Linked DNA regions of Homo sapiens: region 2 is linked to region 1. The links come from fine-mapping of genetic effects on gene expression. A gene starts in region 1. The other region holds a variant in brackets. All regions are shown on one strand. Distances are between the middles of the regions.

What was found. PIP is the estimated chance that this variant, and not a neighbour inherited with it, causes the effect.
Region 2: its variant is the best candidate, but not a certain one, in a credible set for the expression of ITGAE in whole blood (TOPMed, PIP 0.72).

Annotation. Positions count from the first base shown.
Region 1 is chr17:3,797,389-3,807,039 of GRCh38, reverse strand. ITGAE (integrin subunit alpha E) reads left to right here and starts at 5,852. Exons shown (of 31, transcript NM_002208.5): 1 at 5,852-5,929. The coding sequence starts at 5,896. NCBP3 (nuclear cap binding subunit 3) reads left to right here. Exons shown (of 13, transcript NM_001114118.3): 13 at 1-4,882. RefSeq lists enhancers at 8,076-8,125, 8,136-8,195, 8,376-9,274.
Region 2 is chr17:3,714,008-3,723,658 of GRCh38, reverse strand. It overlaps ITGAE (integrin subunit alpha E), which reads left to right. Exons shown (of 31, transcript NM_002208.5): 28 at 276-371; 29 at 3,257-3,352; 30 at 6,861-6,971; 31 at 8,717-9,031. The coding sequence ends at 8,812. It also overlaps a transcript of P2RX5 not described here. Among named protein-coding and RNA genes, the nearest start is that of HASPIN, 5.1 kb to the left of the region's middle. The variant G/A (reference allele first, on the strand shown) is at 4,445.

The DNA.
Region 1 (9,651 bases):
AGACTTAAGTCAAAATTTACTGTGAAGCCACAGCAAACCATGGCTTCACAGATGAATTAGTTGCTACACAAATAAGTTCGATACATAAGTACAGTAATTGCTTTTAAACCTTATAATAAGCAGTAAATTAGAAGTTAAACCATGTTTTTCTTTTACGAACTGAAAGAAGAGAATGCTTTTGATACTGAGAATCGCACACTGTGTCCAGGAAGATTGTTCTTGCATAACCAGACCCACAATAAATATCTACAACTTTTCTTACATGTTTATAAAATAAATCTTAGAAGAAAAATATTGTAGCTTTTTTTTTTTTTTTTTTTTCAATGAAGCTCTATGAACATTTCACAGAACTTTGTTCCTGGGAGTAGTTAGGGAAATGCTGCTTCAAAAAGCCAATTTTAAGTAGTTGTGAGGCATCCGAGTGGAATTTGGCTGCACTATCCATAAAACTTGAGAGTATAGGCGGTATTTCACCTACCAAGGTCAGTACCCTGCCTCAGGATTCTTACTGTTCATTTGAGCAATTCCGGGGCCCTCTCTGGATGACCAGGTTCGTAAATAGTTGAGACTTTGTGTTATCTCAAATTGTCACCATCACCTCTGGGCCAATATAGGTTAGTGAGGTCGAGAGGCCCACACCATTGACAGAAGAGAATTCTCAGGCCGGGCTTGGTGGCTCACGCCTGTAATCCCAGCACTTTGGGAGGCCGAGGCGGGTGGATCACCTGAGGTCAGGAGTTCAAGAGCAGCCTGGCCAACATGTTGGAACCCCGTCTCTACTAGAAATACAAAAATTAGCTGGGCGTGGTGGTGGGTACCTGTAGTCCCAGCTACTTGGGAGGCTGAGACAGGAGAATTACTTGAACCCGGGAGGCAGAGGTTGCAGTGAGGTGAGATCGCGCCACTGCGCTCCAGCCTGGGCGACAGAGCGAGACTCCGTCTCAAAAAAAAAAGAAAGGATTCTCACCTTCCTGTCCCTTCCTAGGAGTTTTGTGGTAGTGTTCGATCCTGTGATGTGGCCATCTTCTCCTCAGGGCCTGTGAGAGGCAGGCAGCATCTTTAGCTGAGGTAGAATGCCTGTTGGGGAAAGTCAAATAGGATGGTGGCTGGGGCCGGGGCTCTGGGGACTCCTTCTGCCCCACATACTCAATTGGAAAGACTGAGCAAGTCCCCTCACCTCCCTGGGCCTCAGCTTCCCTGTCTGTCAAATGGAGGGCTCAACTGGGGTGAGCTCCAGTTTCCTTCTAGTGCTAACGCGTGTTCAAGGATCCTTGCTCTCCTTTCCGGGGAGCATCAGGGGTGTGGGCTAGATAGCAGGAAAGAAGTAGGGGTTTGTAAACAAGAGATCCAAGCCCCTGGACCCTTGGTCCCAGCACCCAGTGCAGCCCTCGCCCTCCCAGCCCCTTCCTTAGAAAGGACAAGAAAATCCACTCCTTGTTCTCTCCCTGTCCCATCACCCCCGCAGTCCCCCACAGATCTGAGGCCGGAGGATGCCAACATGGTGAGCACCCTCTTGCTGTCTTATTCACGTAGGCTTTTCTTGGTGCCTGCACATGGCTCTTGTAAGGCCACCAATCTTGCTGGATTATGACCTCATCTAACCTTAATTACTTCCTAAAAGCCATATGTCCAAGAAGAGCCACATTGGGGGTTAGGGCTTCAACATATGAATTTGGAGGACATTTACAGTTCAGTCCACAGCACCTGGTCATGTGGAGATCCCAGTCTGCATTTGTGGGATGAAATCTCTGCTTTTTTAAAGTTTACACACCACCTAGCTGGGCACGTGGCTCACACCTGTAGTCTCAGCACTTTGGGAGGCCGAGGCGGGGATCACCTGATGTCAGGAGTTCGAGACCAGCCTGGCCAACATGGTGAAACCCCGTCTCTACTAAAAATACAAAAATTAGCCGGGTGTGGTGGCGGGCACCTGTAGTCCCAGCTACTCGGGAGGCTGAGGCAGGAGAATCGCTTGAACCCAGGAGGCAGAGGTTGCAGTAAGCTGAGATTGTGCCACTGCACTCCAGTCTGGATGAAAGAGCAAGACTCCATCTCAAAAACAAAAATAAAAAAAGTCTACACACCAAAAGAGCTGAAGGCAGGAGAGTTTGTGGTGGTTCAGAGTCCTGATTCTGGAGGAAACAGGCCTGTTTGGAGTCCCAGCTCTGCTCCTTACTAGCTATGTGGCCTCTCAGAGGCAGCATCCTTATCTGAGAAATCGGGTTGACCTTGTAGGTGGCTGAGAGGCTCAGATGAGGGCTCGCATGTGAGGCCTTGGCACTGAGCAGGGCACTCCTACCGAGTGTTCAAAGGTCGTGAGTACCACTGCTCTGCAGCCCTGGGCTCTGGTCTCAGCAATGCCGTCACTCTTTCTGGCTTCCTAAGAGTCAGAAGGCAAGTGGGAGAATAGAACCATTTCCTGTGTCTGAAGGCTGTGCCTCAGTGCTTTTGACTCACTCTGAAGACAGCAGGCAGCCCTTTCTGTTTTTTTTGGAGATGAAGTCTTGCTCTTGTCGCCCAGGCTGGAGTGCAATGGCGCAGTCTCGGCTCACTGCACCCTCCGCCTCCCAGGTTCAAGCAATTCTCCCACCATAGCCTCCCGAAGCTGGGGCTACAGGCACACGCTGCCACGCCTGGCTAATTTTTTGTGTTTTTAGTAAAGACAGGGTTTCACCATGTTGCCCAGGCTGGTCTCAAACTCCTGAACTCAGGCGATCCGCCTACCTCGGCTTCCCAAAGTGCTGGGATTACAGGTGTCAGCTACCACGCCCGACCCACAGGCAGCCCTTTCACCTCACGCCGAGCACGTCTCCTCCATCCATGAACATTTTGCAACTTTTTTTTAAAGAGACAGGTTCATACTATGTTGTCTAGATTGGACTCAAACTCCTGGGCTCAAGCTTTCCCAAGTAGCTTGAACCTCTTAAGTAACTGTGACTACAAGTGCACCTGGCCACTTTTTCTGAGACGGAGTCTCGCTCTGTCACCCAAGTGGAGTGCAGTGGCATGATCTCCGCCCACTGCGAGCTCCGCCTCCTGGGTTCACGCCATTCTCCTGCCTCACCCTCCTGAGTAGCTGGGACTACAGGCACCCGCCACCACGCCTGGCTAATTTTTTTTGTATTTTTAGTAGAGACCGGGTTTCACCGTGTTAGCCAGGATGGTCTCGATCTCCTGACTTTGTGATCCGCCCGCCTCGGCCTCCCAAAGTGCTGGGATTACAGGCGTGAGCCACCGCGCCTGGCCCACCTGCCCATTTTTTAAAAACTTTATTCTTCCTGGTATCAAGGGGAGAAAGAAAAAAATTTTTTAAAATATTTAAAACTTTATTTTGAAATAATTTCAAAATCACAGCAGTTTGAAGGGTACAACAAAGAACATTTTGCCACATTTTCTCTTTCATTCGTTCCCTCCTCTTCTCCCTCACCCCTGTTTCTTCCTATCCTCTCTGAACCATGAACCATTTGAGGATTATTTGTATACATCATGCTCGTTTATCCGTAAGATGTTTTAGTGAACATTTCCCAAGAACAGGGACAGCCTCTCACATGCCCATGGTACAGTTCTCAAATTCAGGAAATGTGTAATATTCTCTGATCAGCCCAGGAGTTGCTAATTTGTAGTTCCTGTTTCAAATTTGCCAACTGTCCCAATAATGATTTTGAAAGCCGTTGTTTTTCTGGTCCAGGATCCAATCCAGGATCAAGCGCTGCCTTTAGTTGTCCTCTCTGCAGCCTCCTTTCGTTTGGAGCAGGTCCTCAGCCTTTCTGTCTTTCATGACATTGATGTTTGTGAAGAGTACAGTCCAGTTTCTGTTGTAGAACGTCCTTGAAGTTGGTCCCGGAATATTTGTTTAAAGTGAGTTGGGAAACCACATTCACATGTCTTTTGGTTATGTGTGTATTTGTCAAACAGCCAGCCTTGTGCTGCGTGCTGTGATGGGGAGCATTACTCAACAGAGCCTGGCCCTGACCTTGGGGATGTAGTTTGGGTTTGTGGGGAAAGCAGCTACCGCCAGGTGGGCTTTACGGACCCCTGTGTGTCTCATGACTAGAGGCACTGACGCTTGGATAAATACATACTGGATGGATGCAGGATGAGTCCGCATTCTAGAAGTGTGCAGAGGTACAGAAGTGGCCCTGCTCCCTGTCCAGCACCCAGTCATCAGCTTTCCCTGGCTTCCCGAGGCACCCTGACGTTCACACTCCAAACACAAAGTCTTCTCTCAGGAATCTCGAGTGAGCTGCAGTCTGGGTTCTAGCCCTGCCCTAGCAGGGATCTGCTCAGTGACTGGGCTGCTCTCTTCCTGCTTTAGGCCAATGCGGGGGAGAGGAGACCACTGTGACTCTCCCCAGTGCCCTTGGAGCGCAGAATGAAGTGAGGGGAGGAGGAGGGTCACGAGCCCTGGAGCGCTGGGAAGACAGGCTGTAGGCCGCAGGCCCCGATCCTGCCTGGGACGAGGTTCAACAGAAGTAGGATGGTTTCATCATGACCTGGCAGGAAAACCACCAGACCTGGAATTTTGCTTTTACAACTGTTTAACTTCTGTTTCATACAGGATGGAAACCGGTGAATTGTAATCTCACATAACCGAGCAAGATCTAGTAGTCATAAGCACTTTGTCAGAGCAAAGCAGACAAGGCAAAGTGTTGGAAATGTCATCGGATCTTCACAGAACCTTAGCCAAGCAGCCTTTCAATGCGAGAAACAAAATAACATGGATTTTTATCTAGTAATGAAGTCAACACCATTGTCCACCCTGGGTTAACACATTCACATCTCAAAGCGAATGGGGCTGCAGACACTCGTGTTAGAGAGCCTTGGAATGTCCTGCCTTTTTACGTTTAATTAAAATTAAATAAAATATACAAAATTCAGTTCATCAGTTGTTCTAGTGGCATTTTAAGGGTTTAGTACCATATGTGGCTCATGAGTACCATCCTGGACAGCGTCGACCTAGAGCAGTTCCATCCCCGCGCAGAGTTCTGTTTGACGGCGCCACTCTGCACTTCCAGCAGCCTGGGGAGCAGGGGTGCAGGAGAGTTCCTTCTGTGTCACAGACTTGGTCACACAGTACAGATCTCAGATCAGCACTTAAACACGACTGCCAGCTGTCAACGGCGTGTTCTGTGGAATGCTGGGATGCATCACAGGTATGCTGGAAGATGTATAGAATTTTACTTCTGTTATTCTGGTAACTCAGAGTCCTGTTCAGTCAGTTTCCACGTCAGGTTGCTGTCCTGGTTTTAAAGAGAATGAACGCAGCCGAAGTTGAATCGAGGCAGTGATTTCACTCAGTGCGTTGGGTCTTTCCACTCACCTGGCCCTCCAGAACCCCAGGGCCTTGAGTGCATGGGCTGGTACAAGAGCCCAGTTTTTGGCTGGGGAGGCACTTCCTATGGGAGGGGGACGCCTGTCTCAGTGCTGAGGCAACCACCACCGAGGACCCTGGGCTGGAAGCTGGGCTGAGATGTCTGGTGGTAGGTTCTGAGGCAGGACAGGGGACCGACTCAAATGGATGATACGAACGGCAGGCTGGATTCACGTTGCTCCTGCACCTCCAGCATCTGCTGAGGACACCTAGAACTGTGGCCCTGGCCAAACCTCAGCTCCCTATTCCATGAAAGTGTGGGTCAAAGTGTGGGTGGTAGAGTGGGGCTGACAGTGGCCCCTAAGCTCCTAGGGTCCAGCCCACAACTGAGGAAGCCACACGGCTGGTTGTGTACGAGCCGGAGTGTCTCTGTTTGGTTGAAAGTGCCGGTCTGTGGGTCCTTGCTGGTGTGTGTGCTTCTGTCCCCGCCTCCTGGCCTCCTGGCTGAGGGGAAGCTGAGTGGGCCACGGCCCATGTGTCGCACTCGCCTCGGCTCCCACACAGCCGCCTCTGCTCCAGCAAGGATGTGGCTCTTCCACACTCTGCTCTGCATAGCCAGTAAGTCCTCTCACCCGCTGCTTCGAGGGGCTGCTGTGCCCTCAGCTCCAGCCAGGTGTCTGCAGACTACAGCCTTGACTGTCTGTCTCTGATGGGGCTCAGTTAGAGCCAGAGGTTAGAGAGTGGCAGCTCCTCCAGGAAAGGAGTCTTGCTCGGTGGGTCAGGGCCCCAGGCTTGTTGGGAAGGGCGGCTGAGGCTTCGTGTTGCCAGTTCTGTCAGCCAGGGCCTTTGGACTCCAGGGCTCTGCCATTCTGTTCCTCCTCCAGCCAGCCTCCCCCCGCCACCGAGGCCCTCTCCCCATGGCACCCACTTGGGGCAGGTCCTTGACTCTGTAGTTTGTTCTCTGAGTGTGGAGGCTCCGCCTGGCAGAGCTCCCTTCTGTTACAGAGCAGGGGTTGGGCTGATGAGGGTGAGGACCCTGTGAGAGAGTGTTGACCAGAGACTGGGGGCAAGTGTCTGTATGGTAGAGGGTGTGAGTGTTGGCAGGGAGCCTGCTTCCTGTGTTGTCAGGCCCAGGGTAAAAACTGGAATGTGGGGTGGGGGGAGGCACTTCTGCTGCCTGGGGGGTCCCATTTTAGCCTTTAACTGTCCCATGGAAGCCTCTGGGCAAGCCAAGCCATGAGTCCTTTCGGGGGCCCCCTGTGATGAGACAGCACGGTCAGGTGAGCCCCTGGAGGCTGCTAAGATTAAGCCGGAGGCCAGGGTGGTCCTGCCTAGTGATCTGAGCAGACTTCCCATGGGTCTCCTGCCCCTGCTCAGGAGGTTGGCCGGAGAATTGGATGGGCATCAAGCTTATGTGGATGAAAGGCTCCTGGTAGCTGAGTTCTCCCTGAAAGATGGGCTGAGGCTGTGCTGGGAGGGGACTTGGGATTAGCATCCCACCTGGGGCCAGATCACCCAGGAAGCAGGCCACAATGTGTAGGGTACCAGCAAGGAACACGTTTTTGGACAGATTTTAATATTTTATATTTCATTTTATTTTATTTTATTTTTTGAGACAGAGTCTTGCTCTGCTGCCCAGGCTGGAGCCCAGGCTGGATCTTGGCTCACCATAACTTCTGCCTCCCAGGTTCAAGCAGTTCTCCTGCCTCAGCCTCCCGAGTAGCTGGGATTACAGGCGCCTGCCACCACGCCTGGCTAATTTTTGTATTTTTAGTAGAGACAGGGTCTCACCATATTGGTCAGGCTGGTCTCCTGCCCTCAGGTGATCGACCTGCCTCGGCCTCCCAAAGTGTTGGGACTACAGGCATGAGCCACCTTGCCCGGCCTAATATTTTATATTTCAAAAACATCAGAATAGTCACCATGGAAAGGTCAACAGTTTGTTGAACTTCCTTTTATTTTACAATTTAGACTTCTCTGTTTTTAGTTACATGTGGGGTGTGGAGAGAGTCTCACTCTTTTTATGGCTTGTGGCTTTGATCTCCCATTACCAAGAATATCTGGAGCAGATGCTTAGACTAGACTCTTGTCTACCCTCTCCCAGTACAGAGGAGGTGACTGGGGCACAGAGCGGGCAGTGACTACCCAGGCTTGCAAGCAACTGATAATAGACACGAGGCTCAAGCCCAGGCCTCTGTCCTGCCTCCCAGCTCCAGAATACTCCTGTGGCTCATCTGTCTCCTTTAGCCTCTGAGACCACCACCCATCACCTCAGTGCCTTTTCCAGCAGGTGGCATCGATCAAACCTCTTTTGAGGCCTAGGCCCTTCCCAAGCTGATGGGCAGCAGAGAGCGATGATGGAGCAGACTTGCCATGAGACCACTTAGCCCACAGCTCAGCTCAGCCACGGGAAGGGGACCAGAGCAGGGCCCCCGCAGCTCCGGTGTGGGTGGCGGAAACGAGGCTGCTGCAGTTCTGCTCCATGCTGTGAGGTCCTGAGACTAGGATGGGCCAGTCCAGGAGAGTTTCCTGGAGGAGGTGAGGTGGCGTTGAGTCTTGGGGGCTGAGGAGAGTCTGAGAAAGAAAATGTCCAGGAGATGCTGGGAGGAAGAACTCCCTCAGACTGTGGCTCCAGGCCCAGCACCCTGTACCCTGTGCCGGGTTGGGCCTCCTTAGGCTGGAGAGAATCCAGGACTGGCCTGGCCTGGCCCTGACCTTCCACTCTCTCCAGGCCAGCCACTCTGGTGATGCCTACTTCTTATTTGTGGCAGCAGACGGAATAATAGCAGTTGTCTAAGGGAGATTTTAGAAGCATTGGGTGCAGACAGACACTGAAACCCTGGAACTGTCCACACCCTGACCACCAGCCCCATCATGCCCTCTTACCCTGTGGCCTGCTGTCCCCAAGTCAGTCTTCACCCCTGACTCATTCTGCAGTCACATCAACTCACTTCTCCATCCTGGGTCTCAGAGGTTGAGTTTCCACCCTTGCGTGAAGAAGCCTGTCCTGTCAGCCTACAACACCTTACAGGGGTGAAGAAGAAGGAACCAGAAGTCCAGGGCCCGCTCTGCTGGTGGCACGCACTCGGGCTGAGGCCAGGGGCTGTGCCGGGGCATCACCCCGGGCCTGTGCGTGATAGAAAACCTCAGTCCTTGGGGAGTGGGAGACTGTAGCATCTGAGGTGGGCTCTGAAGGACGGGGAGGTCCTTGGCAAGTACAGGCTGGGGGTGAGCAGAGGGGCCTTCTGTGCAGGGGGGATAGGAGGGACCAAGCCCTGGGGTGTGAAGAGTCTGGTTTGTAGGAAGATGGAGGCGAAGTGTGAGTGGGAGCAGGAGATTGTCTCCTCTGGTGTTGCTTTCCCTTCCAGCCCCGCCCCAAATCGGGACATGCTGGGCCCTGGAGGTGCGGGCAGAGGCGAGGCCACCCCTATCCCAGCCCCTGTGTGAAGAGAAGGCAGGTTGTGCACACAGTAGCCTCCCCGGCCCCGGCAGGGTGTCACAGCACGGGGGTAGGGAAGGGGCACTCCAGGCAGAGGGGCAGCCCAAGCAAAGGTGAAATGCCCCCGGAATGCAGTGTGTGGGGGAGAGCTGGCTGGGGGAGTGTGGGCCGTGTGGGAGCCCCACATCCCTGCCCTTCTCTGGGAGGCCTGCATTCGTGTGGCAGGTGTGGTATAAGTGGAGGAATGCGGGCATCCAGTCCCGAGAGGCCCACGGTGGAGGTGGTGAGGAACGTGGGGACCTGAGTGCCGGCCTGGGGGAGCTTGGAGTTCCTGCTGAGGGCAGTGGGGAGCCACAGAAGGTCTTGACCAGGATGGCGACAGAATTGTATGTTGTGTGTTAGTTGGAATCTGGGGGAGAGGGGAGGCAGAGAGGCCCGTGAGGAGGCTGCTGCCTTGGCCCCATCTGCGGCTGTTGCGGAAGGCAGACGTGGGGAGGAGGACACACTCATGAGAAACGTTTAGTTTCCTGGCCAGGCACGGTGGCTCACGCCTGAAATCCCAGCACTATGGGAGGCCAAGGCGGGCAGAGCACTTGTGATCAGGAGTTCAAGACCATCCTGGCCAACACGGTGAAACCCCGTCTCTACTAAAAATACAAAAATGAGCCAGGCATGGTGGTGCGCACCTGTAATTCCAGCTACTTGGGAGGCTGAGGCAGGAGAATTGCTTGAACCCAGGAGGCAGAGGTTGCAGTGAGCTGAGATCACACCACTGCACTCCAGCCTGGAAGACAGAGAGAGACACCGTCTCAAAAAAAAAAAAAAGGCCAGGCGCAGTGGCTCAAGCCTGTAATCCCAGCACTTTAGGAGGCCAAGGTGGGCAGATCATGAGGTCAGGAGA
Region 2 (9,651 bases), 83 kb after region 1:
GAGGGCGGAGGGCCTGAAGCGGGTAACGAGAGGCCAGGAGACTGTTTTTCCTGGGTTACCCCTGCCGGCCAGTGCCGGGGGCTGCCAGGCCCTCCCTAGCTTCGTCCCTGGGTCTCAATTGCTCCCGCTGGAGCTTCGCTTGGGCCGAGGTGAGCGCTGAAATTGCTCACACCCTCTATTCTGGGACCTTACGATGCTCTGTGTCCGAAGTGTTAAAAAGATTTCAGACTTTCCGCACGGAAAGGAATTGTGTTCACTAGACCTCGCTTTTCCAGCATGTGGAAGAATGGCATTCAGTGAGCTGTGTCATCGCTTCAGATAAAGAAAATGTCACCGTGGCTGCAGAGATCTCCTGGGATCACTCTGAGGAGGTGTTTGAGACTGAAATGCTCCAGATTTGATTATCCAGTTGCTCACGGGCATCGCCCCTAGAAGAGATAATAGCATCTTTGCATAACATGTCCATGTCCAAAATAGATCTTTTGGTGCAAAAAACCAACCCTCTGTCCCAACCCGTTCCTTAGCTACCCTCAGGAGGGAGATATACTCCAGTTACAGTACAAGGAACTCGAGGGATTACCTGTGACTCCTCTTTCCTACATCCCCACGTCTATTCCAGCAGCAAGCCCTGCCATTTCAGGGCCAAAATATATCCTAAACCCATTCACTTCTCTCCATTTCCACTGCCGTTGTAATTCAAGCTACCCTTTCTTGCCAGGGCTGTTGCAATAACCTTCGGCCTGCCTTTCTTGCCTCTGCTTTTCCCACATTCTTTACAAATAATTCCCACGTAACAGCTATCCGTCTTCTAAGAGCAGACATTAGATTGTGCCATTCCCCTGCTTATTAAAAATAACAAACAAACAAAACTGATGCTTGAGCACACTTAGACTAAAATCCATACTTTTTTCATGGCCAGAGCAAGGCAGTACTTGATCTGGTCTCTGCTTAATTCTTCAACTTCATCTCCTAGTACTCGCCTTTCTCTCCCACTGCCCCTTTTATAATCGGGTTATTCTGTCCTATTCTTCTAGCTCGCCAGTACAGCATTATTCTGGCCACAAGACTTTGTACTTGCTGTTCCTTTGCTTGACACTGCTCTTCCTCTAGGTCCTGACGTAGGTGGTTTCTTCTTAAATTTAGCTCAGGTGTTCTTTTCTTTTTTTTTTTTTTTTTTTTAGATGGAGTCTTGCTCTGTCACCCGGGCTGGAGTGCAGTGGCACGATCTCTACTCACTGCAACCTCCGCCTCCCGGGTTCAAGTGATTCTCCTGCCTCAGCCTCCCGAGTAGCTGGGATTACAGGCGCCGGCGACCACGCCCAGCTAATTTTTGTATTTTTAGTAGAGAGGGGGTTTCACCATGTTGGCCAGGCTGGTCTCGAACTCCTGACCTCAGGTGATCGCCCGCCTCAGCCTCCCAAAGTGCTGGGATTACAGGCGTGAGCCACCGCACCCGACCTAGGTGTTCTTTTCTTTTCTTTTCTTTCTTTCAAGACGGAGTTTCGCTCTTGTTGTGCAATGGCACGATCTCGGCTCACTGCAACCTCCGCCTCCCGGGTTCAAGCGATTCTCCTGCCTCAGCCTCCCAAGTAGCTGGGATTACAGGTATGCGCCACCATACCCGGCTAATTTTGTATTTTTAGTAGAGATGGGGTTTCTCCATGTTGGTGAGGCTGGTCTTGAACTCCTGACCTCAGGTGATCCGCCCTCCTTGGCCTCCCAAAGTGCTGGGATTACAGGCGTGAGCCACCACGCCCGGCTAATTTTGTATTTTTAGTAGAGATGGGGTTTCATCGTGTTGGTCAGGCTGGTCTTGAACTCCTGACCTCAGATGATCTACCCACCTCAGCCTCCCGAAGTGCTGGGATTACAGGCATGAGCCACCACACCCGGCCACACGTGTTATTTTCTTAGAGAGGCCTTCCCTGATCACTTATTCTAAAGTGGGAACTAGTGATCAAGTGATCAAGTTTAATGTTTTACAGTGATCCAGGTGACATTTGTGAGGTCTCAACTGAAGAAGTAGCAATGGGGGTGGAAAAGAAAGGGACAGATACAAGAAATAATTTAAAAAAAAAGAATTGTGAGTGTGGTGGCTCACATCTGTCATCCCAACACTTTGGGAGGCTGAGGCGGGAGGATTGCTTGAGGCCAGGAGTTCAAGATCAGCCTGGGCAGCATAGTGAAACCCCATTTCTTAAAAATAAATAAATACATAAATTAGCCACGCATGGTGGCTCATGCCTGTAGTCCCAGCTACTTGGGAGGCTGAGGCAGGAGTATCGTTTGAGCCCAGGAATTTGAAGCTTCAGTGAGCTATGATTGAGCCACTCCATTCCGGCCCGAGTAACAGAGTGAGACCTTGTCTCAAAAAAAAAAAAAAAAAAAAAAAAAAAAAGGAAAAATCTCTTACGTTAAATAAAATGAATAAGCTGGGTGTGGTGGCTCATGCCTGTAATCTCAGCACTGTGGGAGGCTAAGGTGGGTGGATTGCTTGAGCCCAGGAGTTTGAGACCAGCCTGGGCAACATGGTAAAACCCCATCTCTACAAAAAATACAAAAATTAGCCCAGTGTGGTGGGGTGCACCTGTGGTCTCAGCTACTCAGGAGACTGAGGTGGGAGGATCACTTGAGCCTGGAAGGTTGAGGCTATAGTGACCCATGATCATGCCATTGCACTCCAGCATGGGTGACAGAGCGAGATCCTGTCTCAAAAATAAGTCAGTCAGTCAAGAACTGACTTTGGATGGCACAAGGGAAAAGAAGTTGAAGAAAAGGCCAGGCGCGGCAGCTCACGCCTGTAATCCCAGCACTTTGGGAGGCCGAGGTGGGTAGATCATCTGAGGTCAGGAGTTCGAGACAAGCCTGGCCAACATGGCAAAACCCCATCTCTACTAAAAATACAAAAATTAGCCTGGCATGGTGGCACATGCCCATAATTCCAGCTACTCGGGAGGCTAAGGCAGGAGAATCGCTTGAACCTGACGGGGTGGAGGTTGCAGTGAGCCGAGATCGCACCACTTCACTCCAGCCTGGGCGAAAGAGCGAAACTCCATCTCAAAAAAAAAAAAAAAGGAAGTTGAAGAATAACTGCAGATGTCTTGTTTGGGTAACTTTATGTAGTGTTGTGTACGTTAGGGCCATTAACTAAGCCCAGGAATACCTTTAAAGGGAAAGGTGGTGAAGGCTGTTCAAACACAGTGAGTTCATGTCTAAAATATGTTTTGTTTCCCTCATTCCTTTCCCCATCTTCTAGTTACTAAAAGATGTAACTGAACTGCAGATCCTTGGTGAAATATCTTTCAACAAATCTCTATATGAGGGACTGAATGCAGAGAACCACAGAACTAAGGTAATTCCTGGCTGGCTTCTGAGTAGTGCCCAAGGAAAATTGTGCCTAACCTTTGAGCACCTCCACAGACATTCTGTTGCCCTCTTCCTGTTTTCAGCCTTAACACTTCTGATCTTGGCTCTGCCATCGCTGCCTTTGTGACCTTTGAGTGAGTCAGCTTCTTATGAAATAAGGCAATTAAGAGGCCTAAGCTGAGGAGTTCTGAGTTGAAATAACTAGGCTGGAATCTGCAGTATATACTTTGATTTGAAAATGGATTGATTAAAAAAAAAAATTTCGCAGCTGGGCGCAGGTGGCTCACGCCTGTAATCCTAGCACTTTGGGAGGCCGAGACAGGTGGATCACCTGAGGTCAGAAGTTCAACACAAGCCTGGCCAACATGGAGAAACCCTGTCTACCAAAAATACAAAAATTAGCCGGACATGATGGTGGGTGCCTGTAATCCCACCTACTTGGGAGGCTGAGGCACGAGAATCGCTTGAATCTGGGAGGCAGAGGTTGCAGTGAGCCGAGATCACACCACTCCACTCCAGCCTCAGTGATAGAGTGAGACTCAGTCTCAAAAAATAAATAAATAAATAAAAAATGAATTACCTAAGTGAGAAATTGTTTTTTGTATCCAGTAACTGTCTTAGTGTGCTGTATCAGTGTTTAGTTATAGTATTAAACAGTACTCAGGAATGCATAAATCTTTTATAAGATTTAGACTAGATACTGGAACTCTTGGAATTCTTTTTGCAAAAGTATGACTAGAAGTCAGACTGATGCCTGTGATTTGTGGACTGAATGCTTTGTGTGTTACCCTGTGTTTTCATTCTTGTTGACCCTTGCCTGGACATGGCTTCAGAGGTGATCTATCTGTGAGCTCTGAGCTCTTTAGTTAGGCATGATTCTCTACTAGAGGGAATGTCAGGAGAGTGATGCTGGATTGCTAAATATAAGGTCCTCTGTTTTCCTCCCTGGAGGAGGAGAAAGGAGCAATTCTCTAGACATGCCAATATAACATTTCCTTTTATTTTTAAGTAGTGTATTTCTTTTTCTTTTCTTTTCTTTTTTTTTTTTTTTTTTTTTGAGGAAGAATCTCACTGTGTC[G/A]CCCAGGCTGGAGTCCGTTGGTGCCATCTCGGCTCACTGCAACCTCCACCTCCCCAGTTCAAGTGATTCTTCTTCCTCAGCCTCCCGAGTAGCTGGGATTACAGGTGCCCACCACCATGCCTGGCTAATTTATTTATTTTTTTTAAATAGAGACAGGATTTCACCATGTTGGCCAGGCTGGTCTCGAACTTCTGACCTCAGGTGATCTGCCCGCCTTGACCTCCCAAAGTGCTGGGATTACAGGCATGAGCCACCATGTCCGGCTAAGTAGTGTATTTCTAATACAGAAAATAGAGGGAAATGGAAAATACAGAAAACGGAAGAAATAGAAGTGCCCCATTATTGCACTGCCCAGATTTTAACAAATAAAAATAATAGCAAGAAAATCCAAGCCATACAGAGAATGGTACCAAATGAAAAATAATTGTTCCTTCATTTCTCCCTTCCCATGCCCCCAGCAGGGAGGAGTTACTATTAAGTTTCTTATGTGCACATTTTAAATTTGTATGTTTCCCCCTCTTACTTACTGATACTTTTATTTCTATAGCATGGATTCCCCAAAATTCCTTTCTTTAAATCCAATATCCTAAGCAAAGTGTTAAGTAGTTCCTGACAATAAGCCCCTGACTTACAGTGACTCTATGAGTATAAACAAACTGTATCCAAATGCATTTCAGCCACAAGAAAGGGAAAATCCAGCTCATGCAGCATAAGGGCATATGCTGTTTATCCAGTGAGGGAGGCCGGCCTGGGGCGATGGCCTGGCTTCTTTGGTCCTTGTACTCTGCCGTGTGGGGGACGCATTCCTTCATGGCCAGCACAAAGTTGCCACATCTCCAAATGCTGTATTTTCACATGGCAGGATACAAAACAGGAAGCAAGAAGTCAGTAGCAAAAGGATGTTGGATTTTTCTTCATGTGCCTTCCCTTTTCAGGGATGAAACAGTTTCCAAAAGCTCCCAGGAGACATCCTCTTACATCTTATTAGTGAGATCTGAATCTCATGTCAGTCACTGGCAAAGGAGAATAGCTGTGTCATGATCACCTGAGACCAACGATGATTCCTGAATAAAATCCAAAAGGAGAGAGGGGCCCCTGGGCAGGCCAGCATCCGTGTTTGCTGCAAACAGTAGTACCCGGTGCCTTGCTTCTCCCTTAACCTCTACTTGGGCATCTTTGGGGCACTTTTGGGAATCTGTGGGTTTAGAAGAAGATAAAGGGAGGTGGCTTTGAGAAATAGGGACATTTCTTCTACTCACATCTGGCCTGTTTCCCGAGTCACCTTGGGACTTCCTTTCACTTCCCAAACCCAGGGTCTTGAGTCCCCCTCCTTCTCCTGTAGAATATTCCAGCCCTCTTTCTGTTCTTCCTCCCTCTTTGTTGCTATGGTACCTCCCTATTCTCAAAGCCTAGGACTTCACTCCTATTTAGTTCAGCTACCTATGAGCTAAATAGGACTGGAAGGTCAACTTTAGGTCAACCAGCATTTATAACTTAATTGGAAGAGGCCTTAAAGGTAAGTTTGTCCAGCCCTTCACCCCGTACAGAAACCTCTCCAAAGCACCCCTGACCTTGGTGCTTAAACATACACGTGAAGGGTTGCTCTGGGCAGGCAGAGAAGTCTTGTTGGCTCTCTGGCCCCACCTAAGTCCTGGGAACTTCCTCTGGCCACAACTTGGAAGGGCCATACCTGGGTCTCAGGAAGGACATCTCCTGAACTTTCTAGCTGAGCCCTGCCAGAAGAGAGATTAGACTCCCGAAATTGGGAGAGCCTTTGGAAAACAAAACCTGCGGATGACTTCTAATAGCTGAGCTCTGCAAGTAGTACACATGGATATAATTTGCATTTATTATGTCCCTTAGGTAATACACACTTTTTAGTCTGGTGAGGGGAAGACCAGTACTTTTGTCATATTTTATGTGGGGAAAGTGTATTACCAAAGCCTTTAGGGATCTGTGCAAGATCAAAAAGAGCCGTCAGAACGGAGTTGGAAAGGACTTGGAGATCATTTAAAGGAAGTCATCATTTTAAAGAGCATAGGCACGGGGCTCAGGGACATAGAGCAGTGTAGCGGCGTGACAGCCTCACAGTCCTGTGTTGAGACCGGATTCCGTGGGACCCTCTTTCAAGCTGTCAGAGCATCTTTAACAGAAGGTCATAATCTCCTGACAGACCTAGCCCTTCTAGATAAGGGGCCAGAATAGTTTCTTACGAAGTATTTGGGTGATTGGATAGTTTTAGATGATCTAAAATGCTGCATCAGGGAATATCTAGCTTTTTGCTTTACTGTCATCAGCTTTGATCAATACACGGGTTGTTGCCAAGTCCTCGTATTTTGCTCCTTAAAATAACATGTAGGATTTTTTCCTTGTTTGCTTCACCTGATTTATTGGGCGATCTCTTTGTCTTGTCTAGATCACTGTCGTCTTCCTGAAAGATGAGAAGTACCATTCTTTGCCTATCATCATTAAAGGCAGCGTTGGTGGACTTCTGGTGTTGATCGTGATTCTGGTCATCCTGTTCAAGGTCAGTTCTACTCATGGCATCACAGTGAGGGAAGACTGGGCTCTAGTTTTGGGCACAGAACTCCTTAGGACAGCCAACCTCTGACTTAGAGCAGCTGCCCTGGCCTCGTGGCCACTTTTTTCTCCTCCTTCAACTGCACACCCCCATTTAGACAAATGAGTAAAACAGTATCTGTCTGAAAAGAGAAAACTCTGAGTTATAAAGAGTGATTTTATATATATTTCTTTGGTACCTCCCTATTCTCAAGGCCCAGAACTTAATACTGTTATGTTCGGTTACCTGTGAGTTCAATAGGGCCTGGAAGGTCAACCCTAGGCCAGCATTTATAACTTACTTGGAAGAGGCCTTAACGGTAAGGCCTTAAAACAGATGTGACTGTTGTTCCCCTGTTGAAATCTTTTCCTTGCCTTCCCCTGTCTTAATGTGCAAACTCTTCTACTGCTATTTAAGATCCTCTCCTCTCTGTCCGCTACCCGTCTCTGCCCTTAAGTGTTGCTTTTTTTTCTTTTTTTTTTTTGAGACGGAGTTCCGCTCTTTCGCCCAGGCTTGAGTGCGGTGGTGCGATCTCGGCTCACTGCAACCTTCCCTTCCCCCCACCCTGACCCCGGGTTCAAGAGATTCTCCTGCCTCAGCCTCCTGAGTAGCTGGGATTACAGGAATGTGCCACCATGCCTGGCTAATTGTTTTGTATTTTTAGTAGAGACGGGGTTTCACCATATTGGCCAGGCTGGTCTCAAACTCCTGACCTTGTGATCCTCCCGCCTCGGCCTCCCAAAGTTCTGGGATTACAGTCATGAACCACCACTCCCAGCCTCTTTTTTAAAAATAAACACCAGGGTCTTTGTCCCCCAAGCTGGAGCTCAGTGGCACAGTTAAGGGCTCACTGCAGCCTCGTACTCCTAGGCTCAGGTGATCCTCCCATCTTAGTCTCCTGAGTAACTGGGACTGTTACTCAGGTGCATGCCACCACACCCAGCTAATTTTTTAATTTTAATTTTGTGGAGATGAGGTCTCCCTATATTGCCCAGGCTGGTCTCAAACTCCGGGGCTCGAGCCATCTTCTCATCTTGGCCTCCCGAAGTGGTGGGGTTACAGGCATAAGCACCTGACCTTGCTTTTTTCTCCCAACAAGTCAAACTATTCCCTAAATAGGTTCGTGCCTCTGCGTACGCGTAGGCTGCTTTTCTTGTCAGGAATGCCCTCCATGACTGCTCACTTCACTCACTGTCTTCCCTGAAAGCGGTCTAGAGACTCCTGAGTCCTCTGTGCTGGCTTCTGTGTGTTTGCTGTGAGCTCCCTTCTAGAAACCCTTCCAAATGGCAGTCATCACACTGTGTTGTAATTATCTCTTTTTCCTACTAGATGATGAGCTTGATGTAGGAAGCTGTACTTGATCTCCTTCTGTCTTCAGCATCATAGGCTATACTGAGTATTTTTGCATAAATAAGATTAGATCCAGTACAGCCGAAATTATCATGCTTTGCAAAATAAGTTAAAAAGGTTCAGCTGCTCGGGAGAGCAGGGTTCAGAGGAAGGTGGAGTCAGTTCTGATTGAGGGATGAGCACCAGAGGTCTTGAAGGATTGGACTCTCCAGGAGAGATTCAGAGTAAGTTAGGAGAAGGGAGTAGTAAGTATGAGAAGCAGAGGAATATAGGGGCTATTTAGGCAACAGCCAGAATGCCGGTTTTCTGAAACAGATGGCTATCTTTGGCCTGTAACTGGACTTTTCCTTCCTTTGTTTCAGTGTGGCTTTTTTAAAAGAAAATATCAACAACTGAACTTGGAGAGCATCAGGAAGGCCCAGCTGAAATCAGAGAATCTGCTCGAAGAAGAGAATTAGGACCTGCTATCCACTGGGAGAGGCTATCAGCCAGTCCTGGGACTTGGAGACCCAGCATCCTTTGCATTACTTTTTCCTTCAGGATGATCTAGAGCAGCATGGAGCTGTTGGTAGAATATTAGTTTTTAACCATACATTGTCCCAAAAGTGTCTGTGCATTGTGCAAAAAGTAAACTTAGGAAACATTTGGTATTAAATAAATTTACACTTTTCTTTGCAGTAGTGCCTTTAATCTGGAAATACAGTATTACTTAGGATTTGCAGTACATTTTGCCTGATAGGGCAAGTTTTCATTCTTATTTTTAAAAAATGATAGATTGTGGCCGGGCATGATGGCTCACGCCTGTAATCCCAGCACTTTGGGAGGCTGAGGCAGGCAGATCACGAGGTCAAGAGATCGAGACTATCCTAGCCAACATGGTGAAACCCCATCTCTACTAAAAATACAAAAATTAGCTGGGCATGGTGGCGGGTGCCTGTAGTCCCAGCTACTCAGGAGGCTGAGGCAGGAGAATCATTTGAACCTGGGAGGCGGAGGTTGCAGTGAGCCGAGATCGTGCCACTGCACTCCAGCCTAGCAACAGAGTGAGACTCCATCTCAAAAAGAAAAAAACAAAATAGGCGGGGTGCGGTGGCTCACGCCTGTAATCCCAGCACTCTGAGAGGCTGAGGCAGGTGGATCACGAGGTCAGGAGATGGAGACCATCCTGGCTAACACGGTGAAACCCCGTCTCTACTAAAAATAAAAAAAATTAGCCGGGTGCGGTGGCAGGTGCCTGTAGTCCCAGCTACTCGGGAGGCTGAGGCAGGAGAATGGCGTGAACCTGGGAGGCAGAGCT